Linked DNA regions of Homo sapiens. The protein of the gene in region 2 interacts with the protein of the main gene of each other region in a biochemical or structural test. Each region holds a gene or a part of one and is shown on either strand. Other genes may lie near its edges.

Region 1 (7,106 bases), on a different chromosome or scaffold from region 2:
GGACAAATCCCCTGGCTTCTCTCAATCTTATTCCTCAAGTGTCAAGGGGACACGAGATACCTAACAGGGCAGTTTGAATATTAAATGTGATCATTTCCCTTAAGGGCTTGCCAAATGCCTGGCATACAGTAAGTGTACAATAAATGCCAGTAGCTTTTGTTGGGGTTACACTGCTAGATCCCATGATAATTACCGGAGAAACAGACAAACCAGCACAGTCCCAGCTTATGGTGTTTGCAGTCTATTGGGGAAAGACACAATTACAAAACAGGGTGCTTGGTTGCTGCAGACTTGAGATTTGAGCTTTTAGCTACTTGCAAAGATGACTGTCGGGATTTGTAATTTTGCTGAATCACACGTGTAAAACTGAAGAGTGAGAATGAGTCACTCTGGCTAGTGAGTACACCTACCTTTGTCACTCTCTACGTGTCAAGTACACAGTTACTATCGTGAAGTGCGAAACCTTGTCTCTTGTGAAATATGGTCCTGAAAAGAAAGCCCATTGCTAGTGCTGGTGGAGAGGTTTAAGAAGTGATAGGTTTTGGCCAGAAAACAGAACTGTTTTGGACACATTAAGAGTAGGGAATTGAATCTGATGGTAGCTCTTAACCATGATATGAACACACACACCCAAAAAAAGCAGGCTGTCAATCTGTTTCCAAAAATCTACAAGGGAGATGCTGAACATTCATTAGGCTGAAAGGCAGCTATCTGTGGTGTGTGGCCAAGCATAAGACTCCATTAAGATTGTTAATGGAAATGTTCTGTGGGAGAAAGCCAGGAGCCCAGAGAAACATCTCCACAGTCATGAGTTTGGGGACTGACGAATGTCGAACGTCTGCCATACTGCACAAGAATAGGCCGCTGGGGGAGGCCTTGCCCAGCCTGGACAGGCAGAGTAGGCTTCCTGGAGGAAGTGGCCACAGAGCCCTAAAACTGGCCTTCTCACCCGGGGACCCACTCACCATGTAGTCCTCCTTGGAGGCTGAGTGGTCCTTCCGAAGCCAGCTAAAGGTGTCTTCCACATTCCATTTGACCACCTTCCTACTGTCAGGGGATGCACTCCTGCCAGTCAAGGGGAGGGCAGAAGAAAGGAATGGCTTGGCTCCACCCTCCTCATCCCAATTCCATGGGCTCGCTGGGTATCAACCCCTAGCTTCCATCACAGCCCTTGTTCTGCCTTTGGGAGCTGGCCCCACTTCTGCCACCGAGAGCAATGACAGCCCTGCATGAGACTGGGCAAGATGGCCTATGACCTGCCACTTTAATCACAGACCCATCTCGCCTGGGGCAGAAGACAGGCAAACCTGGACTCGATGAGCCGCCTGGCGGCCTCCGCATATTTAAAGAGCAGGCGCTTGGCTTCCTCCCGGAACTTGATTCGGGATAACCTGCGTTTCAGAGTGGGCAGAGTTAGAGGCCTTCTATACATGACTGGGCACAGAAACCAAATGGCCCAGGGTCATCCCCAGCTGTGGAGCTGTACCTGATAGGAATGTCGTTCATGATTTCACGAAACATGGAAGGTGACACGACTGGTTCACAGTTGCTGGGCAACAGGGGGTCAGATCCTTTGTCTACCACCTTGCGCTCCAGCATCCAGCGGTTGAAAGACTCCCGTGGAGGCTCAATGCCTGCAGGACAGGAGAGCTGCTGAAGGCCTGGATTTAATCAAGCAGTCCCACTTGGAGCTTGGCACGTATAGGAAGCATCGCATTCAGCAGTAAGCAAGACACAGTCCCACTTCAGAAGCTTCTAGGCTGCATTTCCCAAAATATATTCTAAGAATCACTAGTTTTATAGTGTTGATAAGTATCTAGCCAGGCGTAGTGGCTCACATCTGTAATCTCAGCACTTTGGAAGGCTAAGGTGGAAGGACAGCTTGAGCCCATGAGTTCAAGACCGGCCTGGGCAACACAGTAACAGCCTGTCTCTACAAAAAAAAAAAAAAAAAAAAAAAAAAAGAAATTAGCTGGGTGTCCCAGCTCCTCGGGAGGCTGAGGCGGGAGGATCGCTTGAACCCGGGTGGCTGAAGCTGCTGTGAGCTGTGGTCGTGCCACTGCACCCCAACCTGGGTGACAGAGCGAGACCTTGTTTCAAAAGAAAAGAATAAAAAGGCTGGGCGCAGTGGCTCACGCCTGTAATCCCAGCACTTCAGGAGGCCGAGATGGGTGGATCACCTGAGGTCAGGAGTTAGAGACCAGCCTTGCCAACATGGAAAAAACCCATCTCTACTAAAAATACAAAAATTAGCTGGGTGTGGTGGCATGTGCCCATATTCCCAGCTACTAAGGAGGCTGAGGCAGGAGAATCGCTTGAACCTGGGAGGCAGAGGTTGCAGTGAGCCGAGACCGTGCCATTGCACTCCAGCCAGGGCAACAAGAACAAAACTCCATCTTAGAAAAAGAAAAAAAAAAAAAAGTATTACATAATGTAAAAAAAAAAAAAAAAAGGGTGGGCCGGGTGCGGTAGCTCACGCCTGTAATCCCAGCACTTTGGGAGGCCAAGGCGGGTGGATCACAAGGTCAAGAGATCGAGACCATCCTGGCCAACATGGTGAAACCCCATCTCTATTAAAAGTATAAAAATTAGCTGGGCGTGGTGGCAGGCACCTGTAGTCCCAGCTACTCAGGAGGCTGAGGCAGAAGAATCGCTTGAACCCGGGAGGTGGAGGTTGCAGTGAGCCGAGATCACGCCATTGCACTCCAGCCTGGGCGACAGAGCGAGACGCCGTCTCAAGAAAAAAAAAAATTAAAAAAAAAAAAAAAAAGGTGAAAGGCCAGAGGATTCTATATTTGAGCAAGGTTAAATAGGTTTATTACTAATCATAAAAATTAAAAACTAGGCCAGGCATGGTGGCTCACATCTGTAATCCCAGCACTGTGGGAGGCCAAGGCAAGCAGAAGGCTTGAGCCCAGGAGTACAAGACCAGCCTGGGCAACATAGCCAGATCCTGTCTCTTAAAAAAAAATTAGCCAGGTGTGGTGGCTCATGCCTGTAATCCCAGCACTGTGGGAGGCTGAGGCGGGCGCATCACAAGGTCAGGAGTTCAGGACCAGCCTGGCCAACATCGTGACACCCCCATCTCTATTAAAAATACAAAAATGAGCTGGGCATGGTGGTGTACACCTGTAATCCCGCTACTCGGGAGGCTGAGGCAGGAGAATTGCCTGAACCGGGACCCAGGAGGAGGATGATGCAGTGAGCGGAGATGGTGCCACTGCACTCCAGCAGGGGCTACAGAACAAGACTCCATCTCAAAAAAAATAAATAAATAAAATTAAAAACTACAGTTCATTTAATACTTATTCATTTTACTTAATGGTTATCATAGAATCCTAAGGTATAGATACTCTTGTTTTTTTGAAAGAGGGTCTTGCTCTGTCACTCAGGCTGGAGTGCACTGGTGTGATCATGGCTCACCACTGGGCCCCACTCCGCCATCCCCAAACTGGCCTGGCCAAACCTGGCTCATGCTAAAGGTGGGTGGAAATAAAGGAGGCTGCAGCCCAGAGGCAGGTACCCTCTCGCTGCTGGCACAGCTCCCGATAGTGCTGCCGAAGCTTCAGGATGAGCTGAGAGCGGAGCAGTTCCACTTCGGGATGCGGGGGCAGCACCTCTGAAGGCCCCCGGTGCTTGATGACAGCATTGGTCTGGATGTCCAGGTCCCAGTAGACCCTTGGGGCACAGAGAGGAGTGATGAGGATGTCCTGCCCACCCACACCACCCCACAGTCCCAGACAGGCTGACATTAGCAATGGGTGCCCCCAAGCCAATCAGCAGGGACTCACTCAGTGGGTCGTAGGAGAGCTGCCTGCTGTTTATCTTCAGGGGACGTACCCCACATCTTCAGCGTTGGGGTTCCTGGGATACTGGGGGAGCTGGGCACCGACTGGCCTGTGGGTGTCACTGGGATTTCAATCTGTAGTGAAAGTCACAAAGGTGTCAAGTCAGGAGATTCACCAGAGAGGCTCCATCCAATACAGTGCACACCTGGTGAACTGTGTCCCAGGCCCCCCTCCTGGCTGGCCTGCCAATGCCCAGCCCCTGCAGGGAGCCTGCAGGCGGCCCGTCTGAGCCGGCCGCTCGGCAGCCGGCTCCTGGCCACAGACACTCACCTTGGGCTTCTTCACACCATTGCCGCTTGGCTGCTCTTCCGAGAGCTGCCGCTTTCTGGGCTTGTTCTCAGCCGGGGGAGTTTCCACCAAGCTTGAGTCTTGGGGCAGTGGGGTCGCATTCAGCCCCAAAGGGTCCGACTGGTGGAGGGAGACCAGCAGAGTTGCAACCAGGGCCAGCGGCTTAGGAGCCACAGGACTTTGAATCCTCACGCCCTCCCACCCCTGCTCCTACTCCTTAGGGAAGAGCAGAGGAGCTGGGATACAGGCAGAGAACACTGGGCTCCAGTCCTGCCTGCAACTTGCAACTGTGCGACAGGGTGTGTTACTTCCCTTCCAGTTCTCTCACCTTCAGAATGGCCATGCTAATCCCTACATCACCACTGAGATTATTAAATGAGTCAGTGAATATGACCTGCTTAACATGGCATCTGGCATGAGATCAGTACTCATTACACATTATTTTCCTCAAGAACAGAATGAATGTGAGGAATAAATGAAAAGCTCAAAAACTGCTTATTGTTGTAAAAAGCAAGGCCCTGCAGATGGGACTCTTGGTAACACTGAGAGAATGCATGGTGGTGAGTAGTGTGGCCCTGAACTCACATCAGGTGTGCGTCCTGCTCTGCCTATTACTGTGAGGTCTCGTGCCAGTCGTTCCCCATCTTTGAACCTCAGTGTCTTCACATGCAAAATGAAGATGCCAACTGTCTCAACTGTGCCCAGTAAAGAAATGCTGCCCCAGCTGAGAAGGACCCAAAAGCCCATGTTCCCACCAGACAGCCCATGCCTGTACTTCCCGTCGTACTGACATGTCAGATCCTAGAATGTTCTTTTCCTCCCCACACTCACTCACTCTCTCACCTTAAACACTCATTCTCAGAGCTTTTCCCATCTCCTTGCCTTCCCCAGAGTATGTCAGGATCTAGATGTATTCTAACACTATTCCTCATACACGGACCACAAGTGTAATCCTGCTGTCACCTGGCAGCCCATGGGTGCTCTGCGACCGTAGGGAGCAAGTCTGCCTTGTTCATTCCTGCCTCGCGGCACAGCACCCACCGTGCAGCAGCCATGCAATCATCTGTTTACTTGTCAGTCTACCCCATTTGAGTGTAGGTTCCATGAGGGCAGGGGCTGTGTCTGTCTTGCTTGTCATTGTATCTGCAGGTGCCAGCACAGGGCTGGGCACTGAACGGCTGCTCAGGGTACATTTGGGGAAGGCCCAGGTGCCAGAGGCCACTCTGAGACCCCCCCACCCTAGGCTGGCACTCACAATCACATCGTGCTGCCCCAGCACGGGCATCTCCCACAGGGACTGGTTGGTGAATCGGTTGAAGTAGTAGGGACGATTCTCCCTCCGGCTCCAGCACTTCTCCCAGCCTGCATGCACCAGCTCCTCTGCAAACAGGCACGGAGCCCAGCCAGGGTCAGGACTGCTCCCAGGGTGCCCTTCCTACCCCACCACCCCACTACTGCTCCCCCTCAGTACCTGGGAGGTCCTGAACCAGGCGGATTGGCTTTGGAGAACAGGGCTGGCTCTGATTGGAGGTACCTGGGGAGTGACTCAGCAGGGACGCTTCCTCCCGGGGGCTGCCGTGATTCTCATTGGCCATCTCCACACCCACACAGGACCTGCCACACAGAGGACCAAAGAGTGTCAGCTCCACCCCCTCACCCGCCAATTACAATCCACCCAGGGCCCCAGTGACCACCCACCGATGTGGAGAAATCCAATCAGGTCCTATCCTGGAGGGCCAGCATGGTGCCACACAGCAGCCCTGGGATCTAAGCTGCAATTCCAGCTGTTCAATGGGTGCACTCCTGCTGCTTCCTCTGCCTGAAATGCCCCTCCCCCTCTTCTCTGCCTGGCTTGCTACTGGGTTCACATCCTCCAGGAAGCCTTCCTTGACTCTCCCCTCCCCAGGCCAGGTGGTCAGAGCTCCTCCTCAGGGCCGTGAACACCTCTGTCGTAGCACTCAGATGGTCTCATCTATCAGCTGGGTTTGTCTCCCCACTAAACTGTCAGAACTTCCAGAAATAGGAACTGCGTCCAATTCAGCTCTCTCCTGTGCTCAGGCCTAGGACCTGGACCCAACAGGAGCACTACTGATTCTGCAAATATTTACAAAGCACCAAGAGCAGCAAAAAAGACAGAACAGGGTCTGCCCTTGAGAAGCGATTCCTACAAGAAGGAATAGTAACAACTCCCAGAAGGAGATGGGATTTTACTGCTCTCATCCAGTAAAATCTAAAAGGAACAAAGCACACTAGGGAAGGGCATGGAATCTAATTGGTCACCTTATTTTACACTACATGGCAGGAAGCAGCTATTGCTAAAATAACCAATGCAACCAAGAAGGACTATCTAATTGACTCCTTCATAATCCCCAGGTGAATATTTACTGTAAGTACCAGCAAGGAGGCCAGTTCCTTCAGATCTGTATTCCCTACTCCCCCACCCAAAGCACACCCAGCAACAGCCTCAGGAGCCAAAGTGCTTCTGGCCTGGGGCTGTCAGACAACTGGGAGCTAACTGAGATAGAACTGGTGATGCTAAAGTTGTTTTCAGTAGGTCACACCACCCAAAAGAAATCAAACTTTTGCCCACAACAAGACCACAAAGGCAGGCTTAAACATCAGTTATCTTTTCATGCTGAAATTTTATCAACTCATTGTGGTCACACTGATTATCTCATGCTGATCAGAAGCTCTGATTGGTTGTTGATGACATCATACGAATCATTGGGACACTGATTTTATTGTACACTCCATCATAGACGTCTTCCTTAATTTAGGAAGGGAAAAGTCAATGGTTACTCCATCAGTACAGTTTGGCAGATAAAAATGCAGGGGGCAACAGGACATATGTACAACAAAAAGTGCCTTGATAACAAAAAGGTTGAGAACCACTGACCAAGGTACGAAAAAAATGAAGCTGCCTTGATTCTCTGGGCAGGAAGAATTCCTGATGCCTTGGGGGCTGAGCAC
Region 2 (7,060 bases):
GTGTGTGTGTGTTGGGGGCGGGTTTAATTTCGCGATGGAACCCTACTGGGTTTCCCCCCAGGTCGAGAAGAGGCGCCAGAAGCTGAAGCAGAGGCTCAAACCCTAGTCCAGGGAGAGTTCTACTCCCTGGGGGCATCCCCGAATCTACCTGGCATCCCACGCCTGGGAGAGAAGCGAGACGGGCCTTCAATAAACATTTTGAAAGGCTCTCCAAAGTTTTTACATTAAACCGACATGTCTCTGGGTTCCTGCCTTAGGCTGCGGGCTTCGTATAGTCCCTGCGAGAGGGCTTCGTGAAGTCCCTGCGAGAGACTGCTCAGGGAGAGACTTCCTGGGGTGCACTATTCCCGGGGGACCTGTGCTCAGCGCGACGCGGCAGGGGTGGAGGTTGAGGATGGTGGGAAAAGGTCAAGGTCGCCAAGCCTGGGCCCTTCCCCAAGGCGCAGAGTGATGCAGTTTAGGTGCCAGCTGGACAGCGCTGCTGAAGCATTTGGGGGTCAATGTTTTTCAAAACCTCTGTTGTCATTAGCATTCAGATTCGTACTGCCAGTGAGAGCCCTTTTGTCACTTCGCTCTTCCCAGGGGCAGGTGGGTTTGCAATTTTTGAATTTCGGCTCCATCGAAGTTTCCCCTAGAGGAACGCGGGGATAGCAGCCGGCCCCGCAGACGGCTTCCAGGGGAAGAGAGGGGAGGTCGTCTCCTTCCCCGAGAGTCGAGCATGCAGCGGGTTAGAGGGCGCCAGCAAAGGCCTGGGGCCAACTCCAGCCCGAGAGTGTCGCCCTCCTTGGGTCCCCGAACCCTCGCCAAGGCTGCTGATTTGCCTTCTGGTTTTACTTTCTGGCTTCTTGGGTCAGCCTAAGCCCAAGTCCTCCAGAGCAGAGGTATCACCCCTTGGGTTGGGATAGGGAAGTTACTCCACCTCACAAATCCTCTTTCGGGACCCTGATGTCGCCCATTTCCTGAGGAAGGCCCAGGGTGGGAAAGCAGGAGCTCCGAGGGCCTAGGAGGCCAGAAGAGAGGTCTGGAGGGGAGGCAGCCCTGGAAGAAAACTGGGTGAGGACGAGGAGCCCCCCACCTTTGTTCGAGGGACTGTCCTCCCGCCTCCTAAGAACCCCGCATTTCCGGAGACTTCAAGGCCTTTGGCCCGGGCTGCGCGAGCTGGATAAATTTGCAGAGGCGCCGCGGCAGCTTCTGGCGCCCCTGTCAACTGGGTTTCGCTGGAGGTGGGGACGATTGCAGCGCAGTTCAGCCCTCGTCCTGCCTCAGGACCTTCGCCTTAGCAAGAAAGTGAACTAGGAAGAAGAGAGTCCCGTGGACCCCAGGCAAGCTGGGGTCCCCCTCCCTCTCCCGCACAAAGCCCCTCCTGGCTGCGCCTGGGGTCAGTGTCAGGCAGGGCTGGCCAGACCCCGCAGATGGGCGCTGAGGATTTTCGGGGTGGGCCGGGGGACGCCGGCTCGAGCTGCTTCCCCCTACTCCCGGCTGCCAGTTGAAAGGAAAAGGCAACTATTTGCGGTGCAGGTGTGACCAGAAGTGGCTGAGGCACGGCAGCGATGACAGTGAGTAGCGGCGACGACACAGGCCGCGCCGGAACTTGCCGCTCGCGCGGGGCCGCAAAGGACCCGGGGGCTACCCCGTGCCTCCGGCTCCCGGCTCCGGGAAAGACCTTCTGTTCTCTGCCGGCGCGGAGGGCCGCAGGAACCAGGCCTCTCGCCTCCCCACCAGCTAGGCAGGGAGCGCCCATCTCCTGAAAAATTACTTCCTGGGAAGCGGTGCGGGGAGACAGCTTCAATTGCTTTCGGTTGGTGAAAAACGAATTCGCTTCTCAGATTGCTCTCCTAGCTGCCAGGCTCTGACGTTGAGAGGCCGGCTTTCAGCCTCGCGGTGAGCCCCCGCCTTGCCCCAGCCCCTTCCTCTTTACTCCTATCCTGTTTCCACAACCAGGGCAGCCGGACACTGCTGGGTTGGGTGCAGTTTCCTTTCCCTCCCTGCCTTTCTGCACCTACCTGGCGCCCCTAGATGCCTGCCCTTCCTTAACGAAGCGCGGGAAGTGAGGGGCTCCGGGGCTCCGAAGGCGATCTGGGGCCTGGGTCCGAGGCACCCATGTCCCTACTCGGCTTCCTCGATGTGCACTACCAAGGAGTCCTGGGTTCCCGGATCCCCTGCTGGAGGAGGATCTGTAGTGTCCGAAGCCCTGAGCAGGACTCAGCCTCGGCTCTCTAAGGATGGCGCTGGGAGCGCGGGCTCCTGGGGCGAAGATGGGCTCAGCGAACAGGGAAGGAAGGAGTGTACACTCCCAGGAGAGCTGGGTGGGAAAGATGCTTCAAACTGGACTAGAGAAGCACTGCTGTGAGGGATGGGCTCGGTAGCTCCCTGATGTAGTTTAGTCCGACCCGGGATAATCCAAGGCGCCGGGAACAGAGAGAAGGCTCCTGGGAGCGCTTGGAGGTAAGGCGGCCGGGTGAGAACCGGAAAGGAGAAAGGGGTGGGGAGCCAGGCTTACCTGCCCACTGGCCTTTCCACGCGTGAGCTTTGGTAGACTTCATCCATGGGAAAGGCAGCTGGACGCGGTTGGGCTCCTCCAGGACGCCCGGCTCGGCTCCCTCCGGGAAGGGCCCGGCGGGCGGGTGGGGGAGCGCGAGCTGAGCCGGGAGGTGGTGGTGAAGGTGCGCCACCGCGGGGTCGTCGGCGAGGGGGGGCACCTCGTACGGGGAGATGTCCGGGGGGCTGCCCTGCTCCAGCGCGCCCAGGGCGCCAGGGAACGGGTGCGGCGGCGGCGGCGGGGGCTGGCGGCCCATGTACAGGCACGCAGGGGGGCTGGCGCTGAACTCCGGCGCCGGGCCTCGCTGGAACGCGCATGGGTCCTTGTAAAGCTGCGTGGCCGCGTAGTACTGCTCCTCGCCGTTCATGGCTGCGGCCCGGGATTGGGCACCGGGAGCCGGGAGCCGGGAGCCGGGAGTCGGGAGCTGGAGCCGGGGATTTGGCACTGTGTGGCGTTCCCACTCCCGGCGCCACCCCTGCTCGCTTTGACAGCTCCGCACTGATCTCAGAGGGAACCCACAGCCAGCGCGGACCGGCGGGCCGGCCGCCGCACCATAGGCTCCGCGGGGCCCCACGTGGTTCAGCCGGGGGCCGTGATTGGCCTGGCTGGCCGCACTAAGAGGCTAGGCCCAGGTACCCGCGAGCACCTGCTTTTGTTCCAATTTTCTCTCTCAGCTGAGTTTGCTGCACACTCCTGAACGGGCAGCTGGCGGTGCTCCCCAAAATGGGCGCTCACGAAAACATTAGAACCACTCATTTATAGAAACATTTTCACCGTGGCTTAAAAGTTTCTATTTTCCTATATTTTTCTATTTTCTATTTTCCTATATTTTTTCTATTATATTTGATAATGGACATAGTGTGTTTGTTAATTGATGTAGTTTACAAGGAGACATGTTGAGTTTTTAATTTTTTATTTAACTGTTGCGGAATACGATAAAAAAAAAGTTTGCAGACCCAGCTCTCTAGGTCAGAAGCATTTGATTCTATTTTATTTATGAAGTTTGTTCACAGCCACAAAGATGTCGGTTAAAAAACACACGAAACTCTGGCATTCGTTGTGTGTTTTTACTTGTGGATGTGCTGCAAGTACTTCTGGGGTGTAAACGGTAACTTCTGAAGCATTCACAGAGACTTTTTTAAATTCTTTTTTTTAAAAAATTGAAGGGTATTACAAATTTGGGTTTTGGAAAATTGGGGCCCATTTGGCCAGCCCGGAACGTAGCTTCCCAATACAGCGAGGGGGAAAGACGCGGCCTTCCTCTTGGGGCTGCGAAGCAGGGGCAGGTGTTGGCACGGGGGTTCCAGACCCTTGACGACTCTCTACGGGCCGGGACCCTGGCGGAGTTTGCCGGCAGAGAACACTCACTCTCTTCTGCTTGCAATTGAAATAAGGCAAGCAGGAGAGGGGGAAGTGGAGGAAGAGTTACATATTTAGAAAAAGAAATAAAAACGCTGCATTTTCCATGATAACATCTGTGCTTGGCTTCAAACCATTCAGTAACTTCTGGGCATTCTGGGGTCCTGACTTAAACAGGGCCACTTTTTCTGCACCCACTGACGCGGATGGATGACCTCCGGGTGGCGGTGACGTCCAACCCCCTGCCTGGGCATGATCCGCTAGGCCTGGCGGCCTGACCAGCCTCTGACTGGATACTCCCGAAATGAGGACGTTTCTCGAAACGCCACCGTGGGTTTTAGAAAAACTAGACAGCTTTGCAGAAACGTCTCAGCAAGAGAGAGCTTGAACCACAAAGAACCAAGCCAGAGAAAAATCACTGCTCCGCCTTTCCTAAACAACGCACCAACATCCAGACCTTTGAGAGTCAATCTTAATGTATTTCTTTCTTCCTACTGGAAATATTTGTGTTTTAAGTGCGGATTGAGTGCTCTATTCTGAGGACTCTTTATTTTTATTAAAAGACAAAAAAGCCAGTCGGGAATGTGGACTTCTCTGCAGATTCCTTCTCTTGCGGGAGGCCGGTATAGTCTCAGCATTTGCTTCGATGTGTGAGAACTCATGTGTGTGGCTTCCTGGCCTGTGGCCTCATGTGTGTGGCTCTGATGTGTGGCTCCCTGGCTTGTAGATGCCCTTGCTGTCACCGAAGACAGGCCAAGGGAAGCACGGCGGCGGGCGGGGAGAGTTTCGGTGATTTCTTCAGGGAAAAGTGCCACCTGCAGTTTTGGTGGGGGCAGAGAGTGAAAGGCCGTGGGGCCCGGGCACCTAATCTCTGTGCGCCCGCGTCAATGAGTCCATTGTCTGCGGCCGCGGAGAACTCTACCCTATCACCCTGGCCGCGAGTGACCACATCGATCAGGAGGGCAGGCTGGAGGGGGTTGCCTGGCCGCGGCGTGTTGACCCTTGGAGATAATCTGCCGAGTCGCCGAGGGTTGACTTGGCGACGCGGTTATGAGCGGACGGCAAGCTCCGCTCAGGACAAAGATCGGCCACTTTTCCCCTCCCCCTCCTTTTCCTCCCCCTTCCCCTCCTCCCTGGGCACCCCTACACCCACTCTGGACTCAGTCTGCGCCCCACTCTCCCTCCCCTGCTCCCTGCCTCGCCTGCCACCCCCGGAGTGTTTACTTTGCACTTCTCAACTAATTGCACATTTCTGTAAATTGGTCTCCATTTCGATGCTTCATTTGCTTCCATTTAATATTTTTGCTCGGCCCTGCAGAAAGAAAAGAGGCTCTCAGCAGAAAGCAAATCCGCCGGTTGCGGTCGCCGGCAAAAACCCGGGTACCCGCGGCTGTGGGGGAGGAGGAGGGGATCGCCGGGGGTATTCCATGGAGGCGCGTTCTCACTTTCACAATTAGCATTTTCTGCTGCCTGCGACCTATAGAAGGGACCCAGGGAGCAAAGGTCAAACAACCATTTATTATTGTTATTATTATTATTAGATGAAACAAAGTTATCTGGAATTTTATCACGTACAGCCGTATAAAAAACGCATCAAGCGGAACCCTCCGCTTAGTAAGGTCGTGTGTTGTACTTCCCCGTGGATCTAGCTCCTGGTATCGTAAAATCGCCGAGTCCATTACAGGCGAAATGCGTTTCCGCTCTGAATCCCCGCTGACGCCTGCGCCCCCTCCAAGCCGCCTCGCCCACAACAGGCCCGGCAGCGATACCGAGCCATTAGGCGAGCACCTTCCCGAGCCATTTAACAGCAGCTCTTATGGATAAATAAACAAAAAAGGCTGTAAACCAATTAAAGTGTGGACAGTGAAAAAGTCGTTTATTAGCTGGACGTCCTGATAGTCCTCGCTGATACTGGAGGTCCTTGCCGGCCCTCTTCCCCCTTTCCCTTCACAGAGACGCGGTTTACACCCGGGAGAACACAGGTTACCTTGTTCTTGGTAAGTGGCTAAGTCTTCCTCGGTGGTTTCAGAGGCATGCTAAGGGCTGAATTTGGCTTGGTGATAGGATTTTTAAGCCACTGCATCCCATTATAAATGAAAAAAACAGATGAATCCCACTTAACTCCAAGGTATACATCATGAATGCACGTGGAATTTATATTCATTTTATAATTAAATCTCTGTTGAAAATAAAAATTGTTTCTTGAGTTGGAAAATTCTGTAAAGCAAACGATGTGATGTGTGGAATGAGAATACTTCTATAATTGATTGCACTTTAGTTCATTAGCATTTCCTTCAATGAGCACTAATGCAGGCAGGTTTTCATTTTCCTAAGTCGAATCAATGTTTCCCTCCTGCTGGTTTATGAATACCCAGAATTGGCCGAGGGCGGTGGCTCACGCCTGTAATCCCAGCACTTTGGGAGGCTGAGACAGGCGGATCATGAGGTCAGGAGATCGAGACCATCCTGGCTAACATGATGAAACCCCGTCTCTACTAAACCTACAAAAAAATTTAGCCGGGCGTGGTGGCGGGCGCCTGTAGTTCCAGCTACTTGGGAGGCTGAGGAAGGAGAATGGCGTGAACCCAGGAGGCGGAGCTTGCAGTGATCCGAGATCGCGCCACTGCCCTCCAGCCTGGGAGACAGAGCGAGGCTCCGTCTCAAAAAATTAAAAATATATATATATATATAAATAAATACCCAGAATTTGGTATCCAGGTCTGAGAGGGGCCAGGGAAACCCAGCTTGGGTTGTGGGGATTGGAGAGAGGAAAGGACCTCAGACTTTGAATGAAGGGTTTTCCAATATTCCTAGGGCTAAGCAATCTAGTGAAAATAAGCAGAGAGCTGAAATTATTTTCCAGATGATTCAGTGATCCCTGAACTGTAAAGATAAAAGCAGCTTAAAAACCGAATTGAATTGGGTAATTGTCTTATTCCCTACCTTGTTAGCTCTCTCTGGTGTAAGAGGAGTAGAAGGGCAGGAGGGGGGACTCCGTGTGCCCCAGAACTGTCTGCTGCTTCCTCCAGCCACTGCTCAACGCTTCCTCCCTGGGAGTGGGGCCCCCAGGCACGAGCTCTTTCCACTTTTGGTTTAATCCTTCCGTGGTCCTCAGTTCACTCTGCTGATGAAAGGAAAAGTATGAAAGGACTTTCAGGCTCC
Region 3 (7,106 bases), on a different chromosome or scaffold from region 2:
TGTCCACATTTGGAGGAGGGACACAGCCACTGGAAAGACTGCTGAGCACCACCGGCCACCCTGCTTGCCCACAAAAGCTATTTCCCCTAGTGTCTCTCAGGCGGGCCGGCTGAACGCAGCCAGGGGCTCAGCTTACTGGCTAAGCCAGGGAGAAGGGCTCTAGAGTTAGGAACCAGACAAGAATGCAAAGCAAGTGTAACCACTGCTTGTGGATTAAGGAAATAACTTGTTTGAAGAGATTAATTAAAGGCTTTTCATAGTGAGCCAAATGAGAGCTGGCAGCTTCCTTTTCTCAGGAAAACAGTCAAGTGAAGCCTCTTTAACTGGGCTGGCATGTCCTGCAGCCTGGAAGCTGATGGACATGTATGAACCGGCCGAGGCTGCTGGGAGTCAGGCATCAGACGAATTCACACACCTGTTTTTATACATCCACCGTCACATCCATTGTGTTAACTGCTTTGCCACCTCCTCATTCTGCAACTGGCATTTCTGCTACCAGCTACAAGGCCCTTCTTGGGAAACTATAACCAAGTAGGGGGTTTTCTAACTCTTCTTCTGATAGCCACATGAAGCTGGTGAAGACAGGCGTGAGCGAGAGGAAGGGTAAGGCTAGAAGGCACTCACTTTCTGCAGGCACTCCGTCTTCTCCTTCTTCTTGTTTCGGCACTTTGCAGCTGCAATCTTATTTCTTTCTCGTCGCCTCTTTTTCCTTTCATCTTCTTCAGGGGCTACCTGTAAAATCCAAAAGAAACACATTTAAAGGGCAGTAAGAAATGCCACCTACCTCAAATACACTGCCTTTTACTGCCAGCAAAAGCTGGCAGACAAGGGCAATGCTAGCGCTAAAAGACCCCGAAATACTAAAGCTCTAGACTTTTGTGTGAAAACCCCTACACACACACACACACACACGCACACACACACACGTGAGTGAACAACAAAAATCAAAGTTAAAATTATACCGGCAATATATTAGTAAATTAAAAGTTAGCCAATTTTAAAAATGCATTTGGATTTTGAGATGAGGATAATATGCAAATTGATAACTATTGGTATTAACTATAATCATTTAAAGCCGAAACAGATTCTGTCTGGTAAACATCTCCTTTCTTTGAGAACCAGGAATGATCTCAGGATCATTACCTAGCCACCCACTCCCGGCCTCTTCTTCAATTCAAGACCCAAGGGCAACCCCATTCACCTCTGACTTCACCTGGAGCATCAGAGCACCAGCTTCCCAAATTTGGGAGAAGCCCATGATGCTCCTGTAGAAAAGGCACCTAAGCCCATTCCCAACCAAAGCGGCATTAATCGGCCCATGCTGGGGTGCCACCTGCAAGTGGTGAACTAGGACAGTCTTTTAGGTCAGTCCCACTACTCCTTGCCCAAAGGCTGCAATCATGCCAGTTGAGTAAGCCTGAAACACTTCCACTTGCCACCATGAGGAAAAGGCCAATAAAATGGTGGAACCTCAGCTCTGACATCCTTAAGCCACTATGGCATCGCCAGAAGCCACCTCCCAGACTTCTCACCATGTTTATTATTCCAGGAGTCTTACCCAAGGTTGCCAAGCGTGGAACAGTGCAAGTGTGTCAGACAGAAGTGAACCTGGAGCAACACCTGGTCCCAAGGCTGTGAACATTGCTACAGGGAAGGGTGGGGCAGGCTGCCTGGTCCTTGCTCTACTGTCTGGGTGCTTGGGTCCTAGTAGTGATAAAAACAGGGACCACCACGCTCCAAGCTTCTTCAGAACAACTGGACACAGAAGGTGGCCTCATCCTGACTCATGGCTTTAAGTGCCATCTATATGCCGATAATTTCCAACTCTATTATCTCTAGCCCAGACTGTCCTCTGAACTCCAGACTCACATATCCAACTGCCTGCTTGACATCTCCACAGGGGTCTGCAGAATAGGACAGACCTCCTGCTCTTGCCACCACCCTAACCCCTATAATCCCAAATCTCAGCAGCAAATGGACGCTCCATTCTTACAGCTATGCTGGCCAGAAAACTCAGTCACCCTTGAGTCTTCCCTTTCTCTTACACCCCACATCCAATCTATCAGCAAATCAGCTTTACCTTCAAGTCAGATCCAAAGCCAACCACTTCTCAGCACCTGCACTGCTCCCTCCTGCTGCAGGCCCCCTGACTCACGTGGATTCCTGCCACGGCCTCCTTTCTGTGCACTCAGCTTCTGTCTTACCCCTACTGCCCATTCTCAACATGACAGCCAGGGTGATCATTTAAAAATATAAATCAAGGCTGGGCGTGGTGGCTCACACCTGTAATCCCAGCACTTTGGGAGGCCGAGGCGGGCGGATTACCTGAGGTCAGGAGTTCGAGACCAGCCTGGCCAACATGGAGAAACCCCGTCTCTACTAAAAAAATTCAAAAATTAGCCAGACGTGTGGCGGGCACCTGTAATCCCAGCTATTTGGAAGACTGAGGCATGAGAATCCCTTGAACCTGGGAGGCAGAGGTTGCAGTGAGCCAAGATCATGCCACTGCACTCCAGTCTGGGTGACAGAACAAGACTCTGTCTCAAAAAAAAAAGTGTGTGTGTGTATCTGTGTGTGTGTGTGTGTGTTGAATCTTGTTGCTTCTCTGCTCAAAAGCCTTCTGTGGTTTCCCACCTCACTTTGAGCCCAGGGCTGCATCTATACAATAATAATCTGTAAGACCCAATATGACCAGCCCCTATTTATCTCCCACCCCTATACTCTGCCCCACTGCACAGCCCACCAGGCACCAATACTTCCACCTCAGTGCCCTTAATTTCTTTTACCAGATACCCACGTGGCTTCTTCCCTCTCCTCTTTCCTTCTTCCTTTCCTTTTGACCTCTGCTCAAAAGTCACTATCAGTGAATCCTTACCTGACTTCCTAATTTAAAACAGCAACCCCGGCTGGGTGCAATGGCTCATCCCTGTGATCCCAGTGTTTTGGGAGGCTGAAGCAGGAGGATCGCTTGAGCCCAGGAGACTGAGGCTACAATGAGCCGTGATCACCCCACTGCACCCCAGCCTGGGTGATGGAGCAACACTGTCTCTAAAAGCAAAATGAGTCTTGCTCCATCACCCAGGCTGGAGTGCAGTGAGGTGATCACGGCTCATTGCAGCCTCAACCTCCTGGGCTCAAGCGGTCCTCCCACCTCAGCCTCGCAAGTAGATGAGACTATAGGCCATGTACCACCTTGCCCAGCTAATACTGTCATAGAGATTGGGTTTCATTGTGTTGCCCAGGCTGGTCTCAAACTCCTGGACTCAAGCGATAATCCCATCTTGGCCTCTCAAAGTGCTGGGATTATAAGCGTGGGCCACCATGCCTGGCCTGAAAAGTTTTTAAACCCAGCAACCCCATCCCTACCCGTTCTCTCTGCCCCGCTCCCTGCTTTTTTCTCCTTTGCACTCATCTCTTAACGTGTACTTACGTATGTTATGTACTTCTGTCTCCTCCCAGGAGAAGGTAAGCTCCCTGAGGGCAGTGGTTTTGTTTGTTTCACTCTCAACAACAGCCCCCTGCCTAGAACATGCCCAACACACAGTGGCTGCGAGCGAAACATGTGCCGAAAGAATGAATACCTGTGATAGAACCCACCTCGGCTTTTGTGATGGACACCCCGAGGGGTCTGTCGCTGACAGTGACTGATTCCAGCGCAGAGGACATCCGGTGGCAGAGGTGCTTGTTCTGGATGGCAAACCTCAGCTCTTCCTTGACAAAGGGCGTCAGGTTAGCAAAATCCTCAAACACCAGTGACCCAGGAGGGGACAGGCAGGGGACGATGGCAGAAGCACTCACTTCCGAGGCAGAGACCTGGCCTGGGTGTTGAAGCATCATTTTGCTGAAAGACACATTGAAACCCAAACTGTTTCAGGGGCTCTGGGGCATGGGATCAAGTCCCCCTCCCCCACCAGACCTCCAACACCAGAGCCCCACCCTCAGAGAAAAGTCCCATAAGCCCTTGGGTTTCTGTTTTGTTTTCATTTCATGCCATCCTCATCTTAAGTAAAGCAGGTTCTTAAAATACACATAGCTCAGTGACATGAACAAAATGCCTATTTGAAATTTATAAGGGATGATGTTTCAGGCTACTCTGAATTCACAAGATCTATGAGTTTTGGCTGGTGTGCCTATGTGCAAATGTGGCCACAAACAGTCCTGAAAGAGGAAGAACATTTTTTAAAAATCAGTGAGGCCATTTTAAAAATCATGAGTAATCTCATTTTCAGCTTCTTTTTCTTTCTCTCTCTCTCTCTTTTTTTTTTTTTGTATATTACTCAAAATAAAGTTTCTTTCACTTAAAAAAAAAAGCCTCTTTTTCAAAGAGGCTTGACGTCAAGCTGAAACTATCAGTGAGTGGAAGTAAAAGCAAAAAGTGGGGAATCCTTGAATTTAGCAAATACATCTCTGAAGCTTCTCCCCCGAAGTTGGGCCCAAGCAATGGGAATGAGAAAGGTAACTGTAGCCAGGTGCGTTTCTTCACCCCAGTCTTTGGCAGGGGATGGGGAGGTGGATTCTTAAGGTTAAGGTTGGCAAAGCAAAAGGTCTTAAAGAAAAGTGAGGCACTGTATTGTGGGGGAGTTGTTCAGGCCTGTGGTATAGGGATAGACTTAGGCTGGGTGTGGGGGCAGGGAACCCTGGGGCTGGCTCTGGCACTAAACAGCAGTGACTTGAGCTAGTAATTTCAGCTCTCTAGGACCCAGTCTGTGTCTGGTAAATGACTGACAGCTCCTCCAATGCAAGCATTGAGTCTCCACCATTGCTTTACCCAGAGCCTGGCCCAATGCCTGACTCGCCATGCCTCATTGGCCAACTGATAAATGAAGTGGGGATGGGGTCATCAAATCAAATGGCCCCCACGGTCCAAGGTTACCTTTCTCATTCCCATTGCTTGGGCCCAACTTCCGAGGGAGAAGCTTCAGTGATGTATTTGCTAAATTCATCTCCCTCTGTTATTCTATAGCTCGGTGAACCCAAAAGGATGACAAAAGGAAAATAAAGAGTAGAAATAGTGACAGTTCCATGGCCCCAATTTGGAAGAGTCCCCCATAAGTCTTGGCCTGCTGTGTACTCCCTCCAGTGGTGGCCATTTCCCCTCCTCCCTGCAGTTGGTTCCCAAGGGACAATGAGTATAGGGATGAGTGTAGGATGAGTGTGGTCTGGGCATTCCTCTCAACCGGGGATCTGTGGTCATTAGCACAGTCCAGACAGAGAAGAAGCCCTCTGGCAAGTCTCGAACATTTAAGGAGTGCCTCCTTCATACCAGAAACCTTAGGGGCACTATCTCATTTAATCCTCACGAGAACCCAGTGAGTTAAGATCTAGCTGCCTTTTATAGATGAGATAATTGAGGTTTAGACAAACTAAGTCATTTGCCCGAATTCACAGAATTAATATGGGGCAGCATCAGGATTTGGAATTAAGTTAGTTTGGCTCCAGGATTCATGCCCTTAATTTGTACATTGCAAAAAACAAACAAATATTATTCTACATTACAAAAACAAACAAGCATTATGTTATATTGCACAAACAAACAAAAAACCAGAGCAAATTTTCTCGGGGCAGGCCTTAAGGTAGGTGGGAGGCCTGGAAATGAAGTGATAGAGGGGAGGCTAAGTAAAGATTCCTCGGGATAAACTGAACTCTGTTTAATGAACTGCTAATCTTTATGTCACGGTGCATACCCAGGCTGCTTGCTAACTGCCTTCTGGGAGTGTGAGCAAGTGGGTCTCTTATCCACAAAATTCCCAGACTGAGGTCAGAAGATGAAGATTTGAAGCCCACTTACTCCATTATGTGTTATCATTGTACCTCCCCGTGGCTTTTTCTCCTCTGTTAAAGAGGGCTTGTAATAATCGCCCTATTTTCCCATAATATCCTATGAGGAATTGAGGAACTAATACATGAATATGCCCTGGAAAACATTCTTTGGCCAGGAGCTCCATGATTACTAGGCCTCCCAGAGATCTCTCCAGCCCAGGGCTGGCTCTCTGACAGAGGCTCTGTGGAGTCCAGGAAGGAGGGCAGCTGGTCACCCACTTTGATCTCAAAGGCTTCTGAATAGAATACCCTGACTTCAAACTCCCCCTGGAGATCTAACATACACCAATGGAGGCAAGACTTCCAGGCCAATGAAATCTGCCCTTGACTAGTCAAAGAAACCCAGGCTATGTATGTAATTCTTTTCCCAAAGCCCTGTGTCATGAGTCAGAACTGAAGTTCTTCTCTCAATTTAATCCTATAATCTTAGGATGCTGGGAGGATACTTGTCGCTGTCAGGCAATAAACTCTGAGAAACTAGCCTTCTAAAGCCAGAGGCTTAAGATTCTCCCATGCATTCATGTTTCCCTTCCCTTTCCAAGTTTATTAAAAACTCAGTGATTCGGGGATGACATTCAGAGCTGCCACTGGGCTGGTCTTTGTTTGGAGGCCTGGATGGCTCCCTTCTACACGGGGACTTTGAATTCCACTGCAGTAGAGTGTAGTTCCATTTTGCCATCCAACTAGGTTTATTAATGAGCTCTCAGGGCTTGGGGTCTGCTGTTTATGACTCCCGCCCCCTACCCTTCTTCTTATGTAAAGTCAGCAGTCCCAATGAAAGAAGCTGAAGAATGTCAGTGGTATGGAATGCTTTTATGAAAAGCATTGGGTGGGCTTCCTTGGGGACATAAATGGTTGTAAAAATGTTAAAAGCCTTTCAGAAAATAAAACAGATGTATCTGTCGAGATTTGGGTTTTCTCGGCACTAGGCTAAAGCTTAACTTCTCGGGATACTTTCTAGTTATTCCTTTACTCAGTCTCTCGAGGTATGATTCAGCCTAGACTACGGCTGTGTCCCCACAAGGAAATGAAGTTAAATCTTCACACAATTTTTCAGAAAGTTGAGATCCTCAAACATCCCGGTCATTGAAAAAAATTGTTTGGGGACCTCAGATCAGAGTTGACTTTCTATGCTGATCATAAAATTGTTCAGACTTGCTACCAAGAACTTGCATTTTGTTTCTGCTTGATTATTTCCAATCAGAAATCATGTTGTATCATTGGCAGTTTCATCATTTTCAAGAAAGTGAAAGTTTACTCATGTATTCCTTTAACTGGAAATTCAG

The links.
Region 1: the proteins of PDX1 (region 2) and PCIF1 form a complex in vitro, tested with the Homo sapiens proteins (one study listed by BioGRID).
Region 3: the proteins of PDX1 (region 2) and ATF3 form a complex in vitro, tested with the Homo sapiens proteins (one study listed by BioGRID).

Annotation. Positions count from the first base shown.
Region 1 is NC_000020.11:45,937,625-45,944,730, reverse strand, and holds part of PCIF1 (mRNA (2'-O-methyladenosine-N(6)-)-methyltransferase), read right to left. Parts: exon of another isoform or gene 7,033-7,106; intron 5,751-7,032; 5' UTR 5,732-5,750; coding exon 5,608-5,731; intron 5,517-5,607; coding exon 5,392-5,516; intron 4,257-5,391; coding exon 4,119-4,256; intron 3,923-4,118; coding exon 3,792-3,922; intron 3,679-3,791; coding exon 3,524-3,678; intron 1,635-3,523; coding exon 1,487-1,634; intron 1,392-1,486; coding exon 1,308-1,391; intron 1,066-1,307; coding exon 966-1,065; intron 1-965. UniProt on the Homo sapiens protein: Cap-specific adenosine methyltransferase that catalyzes formation of N(6),2'-O-dimethyladenosine cap (m6A(m)) by methylating the adenosine at the second transcribed position of capped mRNAs.
Region 2 is NC_000013.11:27,915,985-27,923,044, reverse strand, and holds the start of PDX1 (pancreas/duodenum homeobox protein 1), read right to left. Parts: upstream 3,046-7,060; 5' UTR 2,907-3,045; coding exon 2,501-2,906; intron 1-2,500. UniProt on the Homo sapiens protein: Activates insulin, somatostatin, glucokinase, islet amyloid polypeptide and glucose transporter type 2 gene transcription. Particularly involved in glucose-dependent regulation of insulin gene transcription.
Region 3 is NC_000001.11:212,611,753-212,618,858, reverse strand, and holds part of ATF3 (cyclic AMP-dependent transcription factor ATF-3), read right to left. Parts: intron 3,842-7,106; 5' UTR 3,838-3,841; coding exon 3,598-3,837; intron 733-3,597; coding exon 625-732; intron 1-624.